Regions from separate parts of the Homo sapiens genome. Here all the other regions are linked to region 3. Evidence: fine-mapped QTL for protein levels in blood plasma. Region 3 holds a variant in brackets. A gene starts in each other region. All regions are shown on their forward strands.

What was found. PIP is the posterior inclusion probability: the model's chance that the variant is causal. Protein levels are from antibody-based Olink assays in UK Biobank. Linkage for the fine-mapping came from a reference panel and not from the study's own genotypes, which makes the PIPs less certain.
Region 1: it holds the start of PAPPA, and the variant in region 3 is fine-mapped to the plasma level of the PAPPA protein (UK Biobank, PIP above 0.99).
Region 2: PRG3 starts here. The variant in region 3 is fine-mapped to the plasma level of the PRG3 protein (UK Biobank, PIP above 0.99).

What each region holds. Positions count from the first base shown.
Region 1 is chr9:116,151,626-116,155,782 of GRCh38, forward strand. It overlaps PAPPA (pappalysin 1), which reads left to right and starts at 2,166. Exons shown (of 22, transcript NM_002581.5): 1 at 2,166-2,962. The coding sequence starts at 2,548. RefSeq lists a silencer at 3,943-4,032.
Region 2 is chr11:57,379,502-57,383,647 of GRCh38, forward strand. It overlaps PRG3 (proteoglycan 3, pro eosinophil major basic protein 2), which reads right to left and starts at 1,649. Exons shown (of 6, transcript NM_006093.4): 1 at 1,613-1,649; 2 at 1,147-1,280; 3 at 1-306. The coding sequence starts at 1,207. RefSeq lists an enhancer at 1-1,037.
Region 3 is chr17:58,193,339-58,197,338 of GRCh38, forward strand. It overlaps EPX (eosinophil peroxidase), which reads left to right. Exons shown (of 13, transcript NM_000502.6): 3 at 33-208; 4 at 376-493; 5 at 625-754; 6 at 1,626-1,832; 7 at 3,601-3,919. Among named protein-coding and RNA genes, the nearest start is that of EPX, 2.6 kb to the left of the region's middle. The variant C/A (reference allele first, on the strand shown) is at 1,802.

The sequences.
Region 1 (4,157 bases), not on the chromosome of region 3:
GGAAGGGAAGAGAAATGAAGTGTCTTACTCAAGGCCAGTGAACTGATATGTGTTGGAGGGAGTAGGAAATGAGAAGTAAAAATCTTGTGCTCCCACTGCTGGTCTGAGAATTGAATAATTCCCAGTTGTCTAGGAATATTCAAAATTATTGTATACAATGACTTAAAATCCCCCTGGAAGACATGCAGTTTCTAAATGCCTAATTGCCACAACTGAAGTAAATCAGTAGTCATGGTCCAACCTCTATTGGAGAGGAAGGGGGATTTTGAATGATACAATTTATGTTGTTCAACATAGCTCTCTTTTTATCCAATGGCAACCTTTTACAGATGACTTGGAGTTGCAAAAAGTCAAAGATTTGCTTAGGCAAATTCTTTATTCATGACATTGTGCACCCAAGATTTTCTTTCCTCCAGCCAGTCTCTGGAAACACATTTAGGGTATTGTGCTATTTTCATTTTATGACTACAGAAACAGAGTTCAAACGTTCTTAGTCTAAGACTATTCAGCAACTTCTTTCTAAACTAGGAAGGTATGAATCTGAGATCTCCCATTTTCAGAAAGCTTCCATAATCTTTGCATATATCGCATTCCAGCTTTCATAGAGGGGATGTCTGAGTCATTTGCTCATCCGACAAATCGTCATACTTTTGCCAACAAACATTCTTCCTTGGTTTTCTCTCTTCCTGAAGCGTGTAGCAATGTTCCTAGCTCTCAAGAAAGATCTGGAGCAGCTCGGAAGATAAGAGCAATTGAAGAAGAAAGTTACAATTTAGTGGAGTTAATTTTATCGCAGACTTTCAGCACGCTATTCACATGCAAACTTCACACAGAATATTTTTATCACTACCTTATTGGAATAGATTGGTAATTAATAGCTTGTAATCCACCATTGCTAACATGTTTTGACTTATTAAACACTTGGACAAAATAAAAGAAGATCTGTTTTGCCATAAGGGGGAGCTTTTGAGTTCTATAAAGAGGGGGAAAAAAGAAGAAAAAAATATATTACATGTATGTCCCAGTTCAAAAACAGACCTACAAAGCAGCAAATGGTCAGATCCTTACCTGTGACTTTAACAATTTCAGAGGACCTGAATTGCTTAAGTTGAAAACATTAGGCAAATTAATATTTTTCTCTCATTTTCTTCTTATAAAATTAAAATAATTTCTAATGACCAACAGAGTATTTTAAAGAGTATTCGGGGAAATTCAGAGACCCAGTTGTACTAGGACTACAGCTTCTGAAAGGCAGATGTCCTGGACAGTGCCTTTCTTCTATTTTCTTCTGATGATTCCATAAGAACTTTGGAAACATTTGGGTTAGCTGAAGCCAGCCTTATCTGGGGGCTCAGAAAAGAGGGGAATGGTTCATCATCGTACAACTTTAAGGAAATTCTGAGAGGGAAAAGGACAGGGAAAAGAAGAGGGAAAGAGGTAAAGGGAGAGGAAGCGGGAAGAAGAGTAAGGGAGAGAGTGAGAAAAAGAGAAAGAGAGGGAGAGGGAGGGAGGGAGAGACAGAGAGAGAGAATTAAAAAAAAAAATCTAAGAATCAAGTTTCAAGACTCTTTATGTGCTACAGAAAAGGATGAGGTTTACCAGCAAAGTGCAAAGGGGATCCTAAGAGAAGAGACAGATTTTTCTCCTGCCATCAGAAATAATAATAATAAGTGGGGGGAGTGAGGGAGGGAAAAAAAGCAAGCAAAACAAAACAAAAACAGGAATGTGTGTTTTGAGCAGGAATGAGAGCTGGGAGGACCGTAAGGGGGTGTGTACAGAATTTCATTAAATTGTTACTTTAAGATTGTCTCCTTAAAAAAAAAAAAAAAAAAAGAGAGAGAGAGAGAGAGAGAAAAGGAGGGGGTGGTGGAGAAGCGGGAGCGAAGGAAAGGAGGCAAAAGGCAAAGTGAAGGAAAGCTGGATAGCTCGGCCTCTCCAAACTGATTGATTAGTCATGATCCCCGCAGTTTTAACAGGGACTCATTCAATTGGGAAGGTGGAGCGCTGGGGAGCAGATTAGCATACGCTTGTTTACTCATCTTCTGAGGGATTTTTTCCCCCTCTTTCCTTTCATTTTGAGAAGAAGGAGGGAGGGGAGGGGGGACTTGGGGGGGGAGAAGGGGGCTGTGGCTTGTGTTATAAAGGACGCAAAAAATAAATAAATTAGAGCATCTTTTGGGGGGAGGGAATTCAGCGGATCAGTCTTAAGAGGAGCTTTTTTTTGGAGCGAGAAATCATATAAAATAAAATGAAATAAAACAAGGAGGAAGGCAACCAGCTGTTAGGGGAAAAATAAGGCAGATAAAGGAGCGGGGAGAGAAATTAATTGCCAACCAGGAGGAGTTGGGCTGTATTTTTCAAAGGTGGGGAGAGTGGAGCACACACCTTGAGGAGGAAAGCGAGAAAGAAAAGAAAAAAGCAAGTGGAAAGGGGGGCTCGCCCAAGAAGGGTGAAGAAGCGAAGAAAGTCGAGGCGCCGAGGCTCCCAAAGCTGGCAGCTCCGGGTGGCGGTGCAGGGGCGAAGGGGGGGCGGGGGGAACCGTCGGACATGCGGCTCTGGAGTTGGGTGCTGCACCTGGGGCTGCTGAGCGCCGCGCTGGGCTGCGGGCTGGCCGAGCGTCCCCGCCGGGCCCGGAGAGACCCGCGGGCCGGCCGACCCCCGCGCCCCGCCGCCGGCCCGGCCACCTGCGCCACCCGGGCGGCCCGCGGCCGCCGCGCCTCGCCGCCGCCGCCGCCGCCGCCGGGCGGTGCCTGGGAAGCCGTGCGCGTCCCCCGGCGGCGGCAGCAGCGGGAGGCGAGGGGCGCCACCGAGGAGCCGAGCCCGCCGAGCCGGGCGCTCTATTTCAGCGGGCGAGGCGAGCAGCTGCGCCTCCGGGCCGACCTCGAGCTGCCCCGGGACGCGTTCACGCTGCAAGTGTGGCTGCGAGCGGAGGGGGGCCAGAGGTCTCCGGCAGTGATCACAGGTAGGTGAGGGCGCCTCGGCGGGCGCTGCACCGTCCCTGCGGCCCCAGAGGCTCGCGGGTGTCTGGGCGCGGGTGGCGGGCGGGTCGGGGGCTTGCGGGCGTGTCTGTGCGAGAGCTGCCCCGCGAGCGGCGCAGAGACATCCGGGCGAGCTGAGAGCCTCACTTTGCTCCATCGGTGGAATGGGCACACTCGGAAGGCGTAGCTGCTCCATCCCTGGGAGGAACCTGGGGAGCCCTCCTGGCGGCCCCGCGGACCCTCGGCCAGTGAGGGCTGGTTCCCGGAGCCTAGGGCACGTAACCCGTGCTCCGAATGGTCAGATGCACTCTCTCCTTTTGGGATGAAAGGGAGGATGACCCAATTGAGATGCATGTGAAAGGAGACTTGGGGACCGTTGATTTCTTTGACGTTTTAATGGAGGTAACTCCCCTTCATTAGGCCCCATTCCCCTGAAAGCCGGCAAGGGCAAGGTTGTTGTAATGGCCAGGACTTAGAAGTCCTCGAAGTGCCCCAAAGTTGCTCACTGATTGAAGCCTGCCTCTGGGACTCACCCTCACCCCCTCCACGCCATCCCATGTCCTAGCTTTTAAAGCCCATTGCCTGTCACTCGGGGCTGGGACGAGACCTTCCTAACGCATACCCCGCCAGCGTTCCCCAGACGCGGCTGCGAAACGGGGCGCTTTTCTCATATGGGACTTTATGAGCCCGTAATGAATTTGAGTTCTCCCTCCTCAACCTCCCTCTCTCTCCCCTTCGCTGTTCCACAGCAAAGCCTATAGTGAAATCGGACACTTTGCGAGGATTGCAAACCTTAGAAATGCTCCAGCATCCATTTTCCCCCCTCTAAATGAATCTGTGGAAATGCCTTTAATAAAACTGGGGAGCGGAGGTGGGGGCGGCGCTGGAAGAGAGGAGGAAAGTTTTGCCTTTTCTGTCTGGGAGATTCCCTTTCTGCACAAACAATCTTGCCATGTCCTGGGACGTCTTAAAGTGAGAGTAGGGGTTCCCCCTTCACTGCAGCCAGGAAACGTGTGAAGGCGTTTTGCGATCCCACCCCCTCACACACACACTTTCTTAGAAGGGAAAGCTGTGAGCTCTCCGGGCAGTTCTGCTTCTTCCTGTCTTTCCATGGCTTGGACTTTCACAGATGTAGCACTGACTATCCAGTTGACATGAAGACCCCTTTAGGAGACCCAC
Region 2 (4,146 bases), not on the chromosome of region 3:
CTGCAAAAGTTTTAGGAGTCCGCACCAATAGGTAGCGGCAGATCTTGCACCTTGGACTTCCCTGCACTTCAACAATGTCTTCTTCCCTGGGGCACTGGAAGTCCTTGTCTAAGGCAGCTGGGTCCGACTCCATGGCTTCCTCATCCTCAAAGTTGTCTTGACAGGCAGAAGCCTTGACCTCCTCTCCCTCTGCCTGAATCACCTCCTCCGTCAGAGCCAAGTCTCTCTCCTGCTCCTTTGAACTATCCAGATCCTGGCCTAGGTCTGCCTGTGTCTCTAGGCTCTCCAGATGGGGGGCATCATTCTCTGGGAAGAAGAGGTAACCTGCCATCAGGTCAAGAGCTTCCTAGTTCCAGCACCGTGGACAGCTCCAGCAACGTCGCTCGAGCTTTCCTAGGAATTCCACCTGAAGACAAGACTGGAGGATTTCCTTGGTGTTAGGTAAGGAGAGATCTCTCGGGTCACACCCACAAATGGACAAGAACCTGACTTCTGGCCGACACCACGAGTGTGTGTTTTGAAGGTGGGAGAAAGCACGTGTGAGAAGCCTGGGGCAGTCACCAGCCCTTCATCTTAACAGGTGGGTGGTTTTTCCTTCTGAAAGTTCAGGTTACAGTTTGCCGGGTGCGGTGGCTCACGCCTGTAATCCCAGCACTTTGGGAGGCCGGGGCGGGCGAATCACAAGGTTAGGAGTTTGAGACCAGCCTGGCAAATATGGTGAAACCCCATCTCTACTAAAAATACAAAGATTAGCCAGGCGTGGTGGCATGTGCCTGTAGTCCCAGCTACTCAGGAGGCTGAGGCAGAAGAATTGCTTGAACCCGGGAGGCGGAGTTTGTGGTGAGCCGAGATCGCGCCACTGCACTCCAGCCTGGGCAACAGAGCGAGACTCCGTCTCAAAACAAAACAAAAAACAAACAAAAAAAAAAACAAAAACAACAACAACAAAAAAAAATCAAACAAAAAAGAGAAAGTTCCAGGTTACAGTTCTGAGTCCAAGTGATATCTTACCGGAGATGAGCTGTATCAGCTAAAGAGGGAAGGCTGTGGTCCTGGCCTCATGAGTGCAAATAAAAGCGGGGGGAGGGGAGTGTAGGAAAAAGGAAAAAAGGGAAAGACGCATGAGGAGGGAAGGGAGAGACTTACCCAGATGAAGAGCAGAAACTGTTCCCAGCAGGAGAAAGGGCAGGAGCAAGAGGCATTGCATATCTACTGTCTTTTAGCGAGGACACTACTCCACCGTCCTTCTTGGGGCTGTCTTTGTGTGTCTAGTATAGCCCCTGGCACATAGTATAGAGGGAATATTTGTTTAATTGTTTGATTAAAGAGCAAACAAGATTGCTTTCTCCTCTTGCCATGAACAGACCCTGAGCTGGAGAGTCTAGAAAAGGAATGGTGGGAGGGATAACTCAGGTACCAAATTTCATTTGTCTTCCAGTCTCCGTTGCTGCTCTCCAGTATCACCCTTAGCCCAGACTCCTGCCCCTGCGGGGACAGGTCTGCTTAGCTATGATGTTCCTAAGGACAGGCCTCCTACGTGTTTGCCCTATGAGGTGCTGCTTCTTCCCAGGGCCTACACTGGTCCTGCCTGGGCAGCCAGAAAAGAACTCACCTTCCAAGAGTCTGAGACCTCCACTCTCAGTGCCTCTGGCTTCAGGGGCCAGAAGCAGCCTTTATACTGGGTTTTTGGGGAAGTGGGAAGAGGCCAGAATGATTGCTCCAGGACAGAGTGGGGGACAAAGGAGCTGATAATGAAGTTTGCTCAGTCTTCTCAACCCTGTGCCCTGCTCTCTGCTGGGACTGCAGGGACCTGCCTCCTGGGGCCTACTGCCTTGTTTGGGTACCCCACACCCTGGTTTGCTTCAGAAGGCCCTAGATGTTATGTCCATTGTCCAGGCATAATTATTATTTATGCCCCCTAAAATGCCCCAGTCTGAACAACACGCCTTAACTCCAGGAGTAGCCTCCTGCTGGTGGAATCCCAGAGAGTGAAGTGGAGATCCCAGGGAGCTGGTGGGAGACAATGGGGGGAAGAAACAAGAGGGGAAAGGGAGGTTCAGTGCTCCCAAGCTCTCACCCATCCTAGGGGCATAGTGTGCAACACACCCCTCACCCTCATCTCCGCATCATCTCCACCAGGTACCACCCCTACTTCACAGAGGCAAAATGTGAGATTCAGAGAAAGAGAGAAGGCAACTTGCCAAGGTTCCATGGGAAGTGGAAGAACTGGAATTTCTAAGTCTTTTTGACTCCAAAACCTTCTCTCTTTCTTTCCTCTCTCTCTTTTTTCTCTCCCTTCCTCTTTCTCATCTTTTTTTTTTTTCTTTTTGAGACGGAGTCTTGCTCTGTCGCCCAGGCTGGAGTGCAATGGCAAGATTTTGGCTCACTGCAAGCTCCACCTCCCGGGTTCAAGCGCTTCTCCTGCCTCAGCCTCCCAAGTAGCTGGCTAATTTTTTGTATTTTTAGTAGAGATGGGGTTTCACTATGCTGGCCAGGCTGGTCTTGAACTCCTGACCTCGTGATCCACCCACTTCGGCCTCCCAAAATGCTGGGATTACAGGCATGAGCCACTGTGCCTGTCCTCATCTTTTTTTTTTTTAAGAGACAAAATCTTGCTCTGTCACCCAGGCTGGAGTGCAGTGCTGCGATGATAGTTCACTGTAACCCTGAATTCCTGGGCTCAAGTAATCCTCCTGCCACAGCCTCCTGAGTCACAGGGATTACAGGCACAAGCTTTCTCATCTTTAATGTGTGAAAAATCTACATCCTTTCTTCTGTGCTGTGGATCTAGATCAAGGTTCCTCAACTTTGTGCTATTAATATGTGAGGTCAAATAACTCTTTATTGTGGAGGGGCTGTCCTGGGCGTTGTAGAAAGTTTAATGGTCCCTCTGGTCTCTACTCACCAGATGTCAGTAGCCCCTCTCCCCACCCCCGCAGATGATCAAAAATGTCTCCACATGTTTCCAAATGTCCTCTGGGGAGAAAAATGGCCCCAGTTGAGGATCTCTGATCTAGGATATGCCACCTTGCCCAACCTCAAGGCATAGCTTCAGGGCTGGCAAACAGGCAGCATGAAAAGCTCCATACAGAGTCTCTCCAGCACTCTGTAGATCATCCTCTCCAACCAACACTCCCCTCCTCACCTCCCATCTCCCACCAGTCTTCTGTCACCCCAGGGTCTGGACTAGAATCAGGCAGGGGAGGCTCTCAACTCAGACACACTAAGAAATTAAGGGGACACTAAGAAATTTACTATTCAAGATAAATAACATTTTAATGCAACATTTCTTAAAAATTGAAATTAATGCAAAACAAAACATCAAAATTTTAACTGACCAAGCTCTAGACAAAATTTGCTGCACTTTAAAGAGAGGCCAGCATGTCTCAAGCCTTGAATTTGCCAGATGTCTCTGCCAAGAGCTAGTGGACTTGTCAGGGTGAACTCAGAGGCATCCTTGTGGGATGCTTCTCAGAACTATGCCTGGCACATGAGTGGAGGGTGACCCTTGTCAATTAAAATGTGCAGATTGGTAGGACCGGGCACGGTGGCTCATGCCTGTAATTCCAGCACTTTGGGAGGCATGTGCGGGTGGATCACCTGAGGTCAGGTATTTGAGACCAGCCTGCCCAACACAGTGAAACCCTGTCTCTACTAAAAATACAAAAATTAGCCGGGCGTGGTGGTGGGCACCTGTAATCCCAGCTACTCAGGAGACTGAGGTGGAAGAATAACTTGAACCCGGGAGGCAGATGCTGCTGTGAGCAGAGATCACGCCACGGCACTCCAGCCTGGGCGACGGAGCGAGACTCTGTCTCAAAAAAAAAAAAAAAAAAAAGTACAGATTTATTCCCCATATTCCACCCCAGCCCTCCATGGCTCAGGGAGCAGGGACAGGCAGCCCAGAGGGTGAGAAGACCTAAATTCCTTCCTCTTCTCTGCTCTTCCAAAAGACCCACAAATGGAGAAGTAACTGAGAGGCCATTTCTGAGTCTGATTGCAGAGTAACGGCCTTGATCACTATCTCCGTAGCCCAACGGACCAAACCCTCCACTTATCTACTTGACTGTAGGAGGACTGGCCAGGTCCAGGACCTAAAAACCTGGTCACTGGATTTCAAGCTTGAGACCTCCCTAGTGGTGGAGG
Region 3 (4,000 bases):
TCTCCAGCCCTCACTCCTCCTCTCCTGGGCAGCATCAAGCAGCGGCTTCGCAGCGGTTCAGCCAGCCCCATGGACCTCCTGTCCTACTTCAAACAACCGGTAGCAGCCACCAGGACAGTTGTTCGGGCCGCAGATTATATGCATGTGGCTTTGGGGCTGCTTGAAGAGAAGTTACAACCCCAGCGGTCCGGACCCTTCAATGTCACTGGTACTCTGATCCCCACTGAGCCCGCTGGGCCTACCCTGGCCTGGAGTAGAAGGAATCCAGGAGAGGGAGGCAGGGTGCACAGGTTTGGGGTGCTGGGAGGAGAGAGGGTAAAGGGATGGGAGGTACAGAGCAGGCCAGCTCAGGTCTGCCCATTTGCCTTCCCACAGATGTGCTAACAGAACCACAGCTGCGGCTGCTGTCCCAGGCCAGTGGCTGTGCTCTCCGGGACCAGGCCGAGCGCTGCAGCGACAAGTACCGCACCATCACTGGACGGTGCAACAACAAGTGCGTGCGGGGCGGCAGGAGGGGCTGCCCCTGCCTGGGGGACCTCTCCCTTCCTGCACCCACCCTCTCCCTCCATGCTGAGCCATCTCCAGGCCCTGCCCCCTGCTAACCTATCCCACCCATGGCTGCAGGAGGAGACCCTTGCTAGGGGCCTCCAACCAGGCTCTGGCTCGCTGGCTGCCCGCCGAGTATGAGGATGGGCTGTCGCTCCCCTTCGGCTGGACCCCCAGCAGGAGGCGCAATGGCTTCCTTCTCCCTCTTGTGAGTTGGGGCTGAGGGTTTGGGAGGTTGCTTGATCTCTTAAATGCGGGGAGTAAAACACAGCCCAGAGTCACGCAGGCAGGGCTTGAACCCAGGCCCTTCCACTGACCAGTGCAGTGACTTGAGGCAAATAACACAGCTTTCTGAGGCTTAGTTTCCTCATCTGTAAAATGGCCCTAAAACCTACCTCGTAGAGCCTGTGTGGATATTGAAGTCCTTGGTATAAATAGCTATAGAGGACATGATCTATTCATGCTAACCATTACGGTGTTGTACGGTTTTTTCTGAGAAAATTAGTGTCAAAGTCTTGCTAAATATAAACAGCTCTATACCTTAATCTGGCTTTATCTATTGATCTATTTCACATTTATCAACTCATCAGTTTTCTATTGATATATCGATAGAGCAGTCTATCATCTACCCATCTATCAACATCTATTAATTAATTTTCTTCTATCCACCCTTCCATCTGCTGACCCCGTACTCCCTACGTGTATTATCCATCACCTGGCAACCAGCCCATGCACCTGTGAATCCGTGCTATCATCTGGTTAGCTATCAGTGTACAAATTGATCTATCTATTTGATCTCCCTTCCCCTCTGGGAGAGCTGGTGAGGTCTGAGCCAGTCAACCTAGCCCCTCTCCTTCTCTTTACCACCGGAATCCTCAGGAGCCCAGCCAGAAACCATCCTTCTAGGAATGAGAGCAGGAGGTGGCTACGCCTCCAGGGACAAAAGGGGCATGGAGGGCAGAAGAGGAGAGGCTGTCAATTCCAGCAGGGGAGCTGCTGCTCCCTGAGTCCTGGGTTGGCTCTAATACCTTGTGGGGTCAGGGAGCCCATGTCCCGTGCTGATGTTATTTCCCCACCAGGTCCGGGCTGTCTCCAACCAGATTGTGCGCTTCCCCAATGAGAGACTGACCTCCGACCGTGGCCGAGCCCTCATGTTCATGCAGTGGGGCCAGTTCATTGACCATGACCTGGACTTCTCCCCGGAGTCCCCGGCCAGAGTGGCCTTCACTGCAGGCGTTGACTGTGAGAGGACCTG[C/A]GCCCAGCTGCCCCCCTGCTTTCCCATCAAGGTACCTACCCTCAGCCAATCTCCCATGCCCTTGTGTGGCCTCCCCCAAAGGCAAGGTGCTGGGGGTGGGGATCTGGAAGACTGGAGCACCATCCTTAAGGAGCTGCCTGTGGAGCTAGGGTATGAGACAGAGACACAAGAAACACAGCTGAGCAGAGACCCCGCGCCGTGTGTGTTTGAGAGGTGGGGGTAGGGCAATCTGCCAGGAGGCTCAGGTCAGGCTTCATGGAGTGGGAAGCCCTTGACACATGCCTTGACCCATGGGTCTGAATCCAACAGGGGAAGCCTCTGGGCCCCTGCTTTTGGCAACCTAAGGGCCTCTTAGCTCTTGCCCTTCTCTCCTTCCCAGAGTAGTCCAAGGGTCCTGCGGCTCTTGCCAGCTTCTTGGGCTTGGGCTGTAAGTAGGGTCCTAACCTTCAGGCTAGAAGCCAAGGACAGTGTGGGGCACTAGGGGAGGAAAGATAGAATCCAGGGAGCAGAGTCTCTGCTAGGAACATAGGGTTGACACACGTGCACACACACACTCTCTCACACACACACACGTGCACACACACGCTCCCTCTCACACACACATGTACACACACAGTCACCCTTAATAGGTGGGGCCACATTCATGAGGGATGACATGTGAGGGCCTCTGGATGGCCTCTCCCTGTTGCAACCTTATCTATTCCTCAATCCCTGGCTTAGGGGCACCTCCTCTGGGGAGCCTTCTCAGATCTTCCTATTACACTTTTAACATATGTCCTCCCCTCCCCTCTCCTCTCTCTCCTTCCTTCCTTCTTCCTTCCTCTTTCTTTCTTTCTTCTTTCTTTCCTTTCCTTCCTTCCTTCCCTTCCTTCCTTCATTTCCTTCCTTCCTTTCTTTCTTTCTTTTTCTTTCTTTTTCTTTCTTCCGTCCTTTCTTTCTTTATCTTTCCTTCTTTCTTTCTTCTTTATTATTATTATTATTGTTTTGAGACAGAATCTCACTCTGTTGTCCAGACTGGAGTACAGAGGGGCAATCTCAGCTCACTGCAACCTCTGCCTCCTGGGTTCAAGCAGTTCTCATGCCTCAGCCTCCCGAGTAGCTGGGATTACAGGCATGTGCCAACAAGCCTGGCTAATTTTTGTATTTTTAGTAGAGATTGGGTTTCACCATGTTGACAAGGCTGATCTCAAACTTCTGGCCTCATGTAATCCACCTGCCTCGGCCTCCCAAAGTGCTAGGATTATAGGCGTGAGCCACCACACCTGGCCCACATATGGCTTTTCTATCAAGCACAGCAGATGCCACTTCAACTTAGTTTCTTAACTCTATGTGTGTGTGTCTTTTTCCACTGAACTGCCAGCTTCCTGCAACCTTTCCTGTGTTTTTTTAACCTTCATAATCTCCAAAGCAGCAAGCAAGAAAGGGGCTTAGAAAAGGTCTGTCGAATTGAACAGAATTAAAGAAGCTCAGGCCTAAGAGTCAAGAGAACTAAGTTCTAATCCCACCTTTCCTGCTAACTGGTTGTCACTTCCCCTCTCTGAGGCTGTTTTCCTTGCTGTAAAATGAGGATCGAGATTGTTTCAAAAGCCTCATTCATTCCTAACCTTTTGAGACTCTATGAAACAAAATGTTAAGGACACTCAGACTGACGGGGTGAGCAGCATGAGCCTGGGTGAGTCAAGGAGGGCTTCCTGGAGGAAGGGAGTTTTAAGCAAGGTTTTGAGGAGGTGGAAGATGACGGAGAGGAGTGAGTCTGCTATTGAGGGGGCCCCATGTCACTGTCTCCTCTTCCATCTCAGATCCCACCCAATGACCCCCGCATCAAGAACCAGCGTGACTGCATCCCTTTCTTCCGCTCGGCACCCTCATGCCCCCAAAACAAGAACAGAGTCCGCAACCAGATCAACGCGCTCACCTCCTTTGTGGACGCCAGCATGGTGTATGGCAGTGAGGTCTCCCTCTCGCTGCGGCTCCGCAACCGGACCAACTACCTGGGGCTGCTGGCCATCAACCAGCGCTTTCAAGACAACGGCCGGGCCCTGCTGCCCTTCGACAACCTGCACGATGACCCCTGTCTCCTCACCAACCGCTCGGCGCGCATCCCCTGCTTCCTGGCAGGTCAGACAGGGAGGAAGGTGGTGTCTTCCCAGGAAACAGCCATCCCTGGGGTCCCAACTGGGAAGCAATGGTGGGATGTGG